Linked DNA regions of Homo sapiens. The protein of the gene in region 2 interacts with the protein of the main gene of each other region in a pairwise test. Each region holds a gene or a part of one and is shown on either strand. Other genes may lie near its edges. The genes, in order: CA2 and DISP3.

What was found.
Region 1: the proteins of DISP3 (region 2) and CA2 interact in a two-hybrid assay, tested with the Homo sapiens proteins (one large-scale study listed by IntAct).

The regions. Positions count from the first base shown.
Region 1 is NC_000008.11:85,466,692-85,470,508, reverse strand, and holds part of CA2 (carbonic anhydrase 2), read right to left. Parts: intron 1-3,817. UniProt on the Homo sapiens protein: Catalyzes the reversible hydration of carbon dioxide. Can also hydrate cyanamide to urea. Stimulates the chloride-bicarbonate exchange activity of SLC26A6. Essential for bone resorption and osteoclast differentiation.
Region 2 is NC_000001.11:11,527,367-11,531,183, reverse strand, and holds part of DISP3 (protein dispatched homolog 3), read right to left. Parts: intron 3,213-3,817; coding exon of another isoform or gene 3,116-3,212; exon of another isoform or gene 1,629-3,115; coding exon 1,498-1,628; intron 1,418-1,497; coding exon of another isoform or gene 1,398-1,417; coding exon 1,225-1,397; intron 278-1,224; coding exon 151-277; intron 1-150. UniProt on the Homo sapiens protein: Plays a role in neuronal proliferation and differentiation. Plays a role in the accumulation of cellular cholesterol. Involved in intracellular lipid droplet formation. May contribute to cholesterol homeostasis in neuronal cells.

The DNA.
Region 1 (3,817 bases), on a different chromosome or scaffold from region 2:
AACAGACTAAAGACCGTAATGAATGTCAACAGTTTCTCCTAAGTCCAAAATATAAATAAACTAGTCCCAGTAATCTTTAGTTTAAAAATAAAATTTAAATGATTTCCTACTAATAAAGCAAAAGATTAATTCTACAGAAAACATGTCATTTTCGGTACCATCTTTTCTATAAATAACCTGAAAAATTTTAAATCATGCATTACTGTTTTGCCTGTTGGCAGCAGCCAATAATCCTAGGGCTACGTGCCAATATAGACAAATCTGGGGGGAAAAAATACACGTATTCCATTTGTTTTAAAGCAATAAGATGTTTAGCTGTCACTTTCGCTAGAGTAAACACAGTTGAAATTCAACAGAAGTCGTGGTTTAAACTATGTGGCAATTATATAGGAGTAAAAAAAGAAGCTGTTTTGATGTGAATATAGTAACTACAGTGTTTAGAATATGTTGGTCCATTTTCTAGATATTTAAGGTTCGGCTGACACCATTACTGCGTGCATGACAAGCCCTTTCATTTGTTGTTATGCTTTCTTTTAACTTAGGACTGCTGTGAAAGAAAACTTTTAGAGCTTCAAAAGCAAGTCCCTGAAAGTCAAGCAGGATCCATGTATGAAGATCCATTACGTCATACAGACAATGGGTCACTTAAAAAGAGCACAGGTAAACTCATCCAGCTTCCTTTACTCTTTTCTTGAAATAACAAACAGATTTAAAAAATTCCAATTTCTGAAAAACAGAAATGATGTAAGACTTGGATAAGAGTTGGCCCAATAATTCTGGCATTGACTTTCAATATTTGTCCCTAACTTTGCAATAAAGCAGGAGAGTATTAAACTCATTAATAAAAGTTAATAAGTTAGCAGGAGTTAATAATTTGACTACTATTATTTTCTCCCAGATAAGGCCATTAATAAAACATCTCAAGCAGGGTGAGTTATTTTTTAATAAGTTTTTTAAGAACCTAAAGGGATTAGCAATTTTTCATTAACTTAAGGTGAATTTATGGTGGCTTATTTTCAAAGGAATTTAGAAGATTGATGAGAGCTCTAACCCAAGTTTCTAGTTAAATCCTATTAACTCCGTAGTTTAAAAAATTCTCTCAAGCTTAAATCAGCAATAAAGTCAACCCGCTCAGTTCCTGATACCCAAGTTCTTAAGTTTGGATATAAGAGAACATTTAAAGCATATTGGAAAACCTCAATCTATGAGAAGTTCTAGAAGGCTGAAATCTCATTGAGGCAAAGAAGACAGGTAAATGAACTGCATTTAAATGCAGGAAATAAGAGGTATAGGAAATCTAAAAATGTTACCACCACAAAAATAACTCCTAATAAAAAGAGATGTTAAACTGCCGATTTTTTAAAATTAAGTGACTAAAATAAATAACTTTTTGACTTGTGTACAGAAAAAAATGCCAGCTTTTAAAAAACATGGTATGTATAAACTAAATGTCAAATAAGGTTATCCTTCAAATATTTTTATTCAAAATTCTATTTTTAAGTGATTGCTACTTAGTCCCTCCAGCAAACTAGCAAGGAGACGACTTAGCAAGTTATTTAAACTCTTCAGCTTCTGTTTCTTCATGTTTATTAAGGTGAGTTTAACTAGAGTATCTCTATTCTTTGTTTTGGCTTTGAGAGCCTAGGATTGTTTTATTTAAAAAAAAAAAAAAGAAAGAAAGTCTAAAGGGAGTTTTTCCACATGGTTTTGTGTGTGTGTGTGTGTGGTTTTTTGTTTGTTTGTTTGTTTTGAGATGGAGTCTCGTTCTGTCACCAGGCTGGAGTGCAGTGGTGCGGTCTCGGCTCACTGCGACCTCCGCCTCCCGGGATCCAGCGATTCTCCTGCCTCAGTCTCCTGAGTAGCTGGGATTACAGGCACATGCCACAACACCTAGCTCATTTTTTGCATTTTTAGTACAGACAGTGTTTCACCCTGTTGGCCAGGCTGGTCTTGAACTTCTGACCTCAAGTGATCCGCCCACCTCAGTCTTCCAAAGTGCTGGGACTACAGGCGTGAGCCACCGTGCCTGTCCCCCACATGGTATGATTTTTAAAAATTTATTCTGTAGATGTCTTTTCTCTTAATATTGACATTTTAATATATTCTGCATTCTTGTTTAACCAAAGTAACTGAAAATGTGGAAAAGAGAGGCAAAATTACAAAGGAATCTTTCATATGCAAAGGAGGGCAAGTCCTTTCTGACCTTGCTTTTAGTATACCTTCTTGCCTTTCTGGAGCACATGCTGTGCTCTCTTAAGTCTCCTGGTATTTCCTATCTCCCTTTGCCTGGACTCTCGTCCAAGACATCAAAATCCTTCAAGCCTCCACATAAGCCTTATTTACCCTGGAAAGTCTTTCCTGTCTTATCAGTTAAACTGCCAAGCCTCCTTCACGTTTCCATAGTTCCTTGGAGTACTTCCTTTCTGCACTTATCAAAGTGGCAGTCAGGGTCTACTATTTCTATGTCTTTCTACTTTAGATATTTCCAGCATGGGCTCCGGGGAACAGGAGAGGGACCAGGCCTCCACCCTGCTTTCATGATGCTTAGCTTCCCATGCATTTAAGTGGTGTTAATAATGACTTTTTTGTAGAACTAGGTGGATAATACATGTGTCTCTAAAGGCATGGGTGGGAGCTCCTACCGAAACCCTGTGGTTTTCATCTGTTTCACAATCTAAACATGGCCAACTTCTTTAAAAATGTATGCATTGCTCTCCAGAAGAAATAGCTGTGAAAAATGTAGCTAGATCTAATTAGTTACTGCTTATAGAGAAATCTGTCAAAGTTTAACAGATTCATGGTAAAATATGTAACTATATAATAACTTCATACATAAAATAAGTACATATTCAGTATGATAAACAGTATGCTTCAGAAAATATAAAAATAAAAATTTAAAATACATCAAATGATGGGAACTAATCTTAAAGCTGTTAAAGAAAAAGTTTATTCAGAAATCTTATCGCAGGTGCAACATCTACAGCAATGGTCTAACAGAGGTGGTCGAAGGGTTCAAGTTGTGACAACAACAGAGGCCATTTATTGAGCAACTTCTATGCGCCAGGCACTGGGCTAGGGGCTTTACATATACTGTCCCATTTCATCCTTCCACTGTGGCAGACACTATTGTTACTCCAACTTTACAGTTAAAAACAATTAAAACCTAGACAGTATTACTCCCAAAGTCTCTGAGCTAGTTGCCGGCAGCTCTAGAACTCAAATCCAGGTCTCTCTGACCCCAGTCTATGCTGATAGCCACCAGACCATGTGTTCAAATCCACTTTCCAGTAATACATATTACTAGAATAATTTATTTCACTATCCATTTTTTAAGGACTATTAGGAACCTCATCTGCTTTCATTTGTTGGAGATTTGTTTCTTCAGTGCTCCAAAAAAGACTTAAACTATCCAATTTCTATGTAGCATCCAATGAGATACATAATTTGGCAGACATTACATCCATTGAAAACAATGACATCATTGTGGCTCTTTAAAAAAGTACAGCTACAGACTAAAGTAGCTCACTTCTTTTGGTTTGTAAATGACTAGACGTGAAATGTTATAGTATTCTTTCTGTATGTGTAATACCTTGAGACCTTTGGCCTTGTCTTGTTATAAATATACAGTATTCTTTACAAGAAAAAAATTGTTTAATTTAATTATATGAGCACTGTTCCTTTGGAGTGAGAGGAATGCTTGGGAAAGCAATGTAGCAGAATCACCGAACTGTTTTCAATGTACAACCTTTACTTGATTCTAATAAATCATCATACTATGCCAGAAAGTGTGAGTATGATTGTAAGTGTGTGTGTGTGT
Region 2 (3,817 bases):
GTGGACATGCTCAGCACAGATACACATCTGCAAAAGACCCCCACATGCCAGACACTGTCCTTCGGGCTGTCTACCTTGGACCACGGCCTCTGTGCCTCCCCAGTCAGTCCATCCTCCCTCGGAGGAACCAGCTCCCCACACCCCACGCACCTGAAGGCAGGCACTGGGCCCCACCCGGCTTCACCAGCTCGGAGTTGGCTGCGATGGCCTTGCAGAGGTGACACAGGTGCCCAATTTCCTTGAAGAGGTCAAAGCTGCTGTCGTAGACAACACTACCCTTTCCCAAGGAGAAACAAGCCGGCCCGGGCCGCTCAGTGAGACGGGGACTCAGTCCTGGGTGCTCACCCCCAACCCTGGGGCAGAACCTCCAGCAGCTTCCTGCTACCTGTCACCCTCATGTTGGCAGCCTGCAACTGCTCACCCACTGCTCCACCCTAACCCTCTGCCCTGCCCCCGCCAGCAACATCTGCTCCCATCACTGCCCACCCCACACAGGACCCTCTGTTTCACCTCCTCCCCTTCCCTCACCACCTTCTCACCTGGACTTCTTGCTTTTCTCCCCACCCTCCCAGACAGCCACATCCTCACTGTCCTGCAGAACCTGCCTGGTCCCCCCACCCCTGCTCCGAGCGCCTGCAGACACCCAGTGTGGACTGAACACACAGATCTCCTCCGACTCCACCTTGCCCCCGACTTACTCCATGGCTGCCATTCCCGTGTACCCCGCTGGGCTGTGACTAATAAAGGCAAAGGACACCCACCTGTCCTTCCTCCTAGGAATCCTTAGCACCCACTACGTGCCCAGAACAGTCCCGGCTCAAGCAGTGCTTTCAAAAACTGAAGAGCCCCACATTGGACAGGAGTGCATGTGAGGGAGGGAGGCCTCAGAGAGAAAGCCACGGCCGAGCTCAGAGGAAGGGGGAGGGCAAGGAGGAGGGCACGGAGGTGTCCACCTGGATTGCCCTCTCTCCATTCCAGTCCCTCACAGGCATCCAGCTTGGGCCCTAAACCCAGATTCCTGGGTGAATCTAAGAGGTCAACGCCATTGAGTCCTCAAGAAAAACCGGACCCCCAGGGGCCCATAGGGGTTCTGTCTGGGTTAGAGGAGCCATTGAGGAGCCAAGAGGGGGTGTGAGGAGCTGGACATGGTTCCCTGGACAGGTGCTTATTTGCAAGACTGTTGCAGCTGGGGCCCTCGGCATCTGCCCGACGCATGCCCCGTACCGGGTCTCCAATGACGTGGTTGTCCACCTGCCGAGTGCGGTTGACGCCAATAATGCCGAAGACCACAAAGACCATGGCCCCGGTATCCACTAGTGGCCGCACCGCCGGCTTCCCGCAGCCCGTGTTCACGCAGGGGTTGAAGCCGAAGGTGGCTGAGAGACGGGCCTTGGGCACTGCGAACAGGGAGTCACAGCTGTAAGGGAAGGCAGGGTCCAGCTCCTGAGCCCCGAGGTCTCAGCTCTTGAGGTCCCCACCTGTGTGCCCTTGCCGTACCTTTCTCACTAGGCACGAAGAAGAAGCCTTTGGTAGGCCCATCGGGGCTGGAGCTAAGCAGGCAGCCAGGGGGTGCCATGCATACGCGCCCGTGGAAGGGGGGCTTGTGGGACTGGGCGAAGTACAGCTTCCTGTGGAGGGAATGGAGGCTGGGCTGAGGCCGGAAAGGCTAGGAGGAGTCAGGGGAGGTGAGGCCAGCAGGCCAGGGTTGGGACTGGGGCTGGGGTGTCATGGGGTCTGGACTCGGGCTCTGCCCCGGCATGGGGATTTGTTCTCAGGTTGAGGGCTGGGGGATGTGCCCTGGGCTGGGGGTCTGGAGGCTGTTCTAGCCCTGCCCCTGCCAAGGCTGACTATGGGAACCTAGTAAAGGCCCTGCCCCTCTGGGTCTCAGTCTCCCCATAGGAGTCATGAAGGGTGGAGAAGACCAGCAGCTTTCAAACTGTCCCCCGGGGGTACGAGGGTTCAGGAGGGACCCCCAGGGCCAACCCTAGTGGTCCTCGCTCAGAAGCCCCCAGCCTTGCCTCAACCCCAACAGTTAGGGAGTCTCTAGATTCTATAGGAAGGAAGGGCTCCAGTGTCAACAGCTGGCTAACCACTAGACCCAGTGCAGCTCAAAGTTCTTTCTAGAATGTTTCCAGCTCATCCAGGCAGCCTGCCTGACCCCTGGCCCACTGATGTGTCTGTGCAGAGTGAGCCCAGCCTGGGGCTCAGGGGAGGACAGGCAGAGGGGCCCCCACCCCCGAGTCAGGGTCCCAGGCTGGAAGGGACCCAGTGGGTGGCTGTCCTGCCATTCCCTGGCCTCCAAGCTGCAGCCCTCAGCCCCATGCAGAGTTCAGGCTCCTGTGGGTGTTTGACACTCCAAAGCTAGCCCCGTCAGAGACCAGTCTCCATGTGTCACTGAGCCCCATCGGAGACCACAGTCCCCGTGCATCACCAAGTTCTGTCAGAGACCACAGTGCCTGTGTGTCACCGAGCCCCGTCAGAGACCACAGTCCCCGCGTATCACCGAGTTCTGTCAGAGACCACAGTCCCTGTGTGTCACCGAGCATGGCCTTGTACCACTGTTCTCCACAATGACAGTGGGGCTATTTCTTTCAGAGCACGTATCATAGTTTGTAATGATATCGCTGTTTACTTGTTAGTGGCCTGTCTCCCACTAGACAGCTCGAGGGCAGGAGTCACATCTGTCTTTGTCACTACCATATCCCTAGCACAGTGCCAGCACAGTTGAAGCCCACAGTTTGTTAAATCAGTGAACGGCAGAGAGAGGAGACCTTTGGCTAATATGGCCTCCACAGATAAATGGATGCAGGGCTGTGTTTACAACATGGGGAATGAAACCCCAGAAAAGGTGCCCCTGGATGGCGTGGAGATCCCGAGAGCACAGAATGCAGCCTCTGACTCGGCATGTAGTAGGGACCCGACTTCACACTGGGTGCTAGCAGGGACTGGGCCTGTGGCAAGTGAATACAACAGGGGCCCTCCCCTCGCTCTCCTTCCAGCAGAAGGGGCAGGGGCATTAAATAAACATTTTCTGAATTAATGATATATTTAGAGTGTGGGTGAGTGCCTTGTCAAGGAAGTGTGGAGTGTACTCATTCATTCATTCAGCAAGTACTTATTTGTACCTACTACGCCAGACACCCGTGACAGGTGCTGGGGAGGCGGCACCAAATGAGACGGCCAAGGTGCTACCACAGGATGCCTGTGTGCTCCTGTGGGAAGACAGGTAACACTGCAGGTCAGCATGGTGGCAGGTGGCAATGGGGCCAGGAGAGCAGTGGGTGACGTATGGAGAGAGGCTGGATGTGGCACTTGGAGAGGGACAGCCTCTCCCAAGAGGTGACTTTTGGACAGGGACTTGAATCTTGAGAAGTTGTCTCACACTTGAGGAGCTGGGAAAAGCATTCTAGGCACAGAGAGCAGTAAATGCAAAGGGCCTGAGATGGAAAGGGGCCTGGTATGCCAGAGGGACAGCCAGGTGGCCACTGCAACCCCTGAGGAGCTATCAAGGTGGGGAGCAGCTCCCGGGCCCGTCTCTTTGCCAATGTTCTCCACTCCCCAGCCCTGGGCAGAGACCCATCTGAGCAGGTAGGTGGAAATGGACAGCAGTTTCTTTTTCTCTTTTTTTTTTTTTTTGAGATGGAGTCTCGCTCTGTTGCCCAGGCTGGAGTGCAGAGGCGCGATCTCGGCTCACTGCAACCTCTGCCTCTGGGTTCAAGTGATTCTCCTGCCTCAGCCTCCTGAGTAGCTGGGATTACAGGTGCGTGCCACCATGCCTGGCTAATTTTTTGTATTTTTAGTAGAGAAGGAGTTTCAC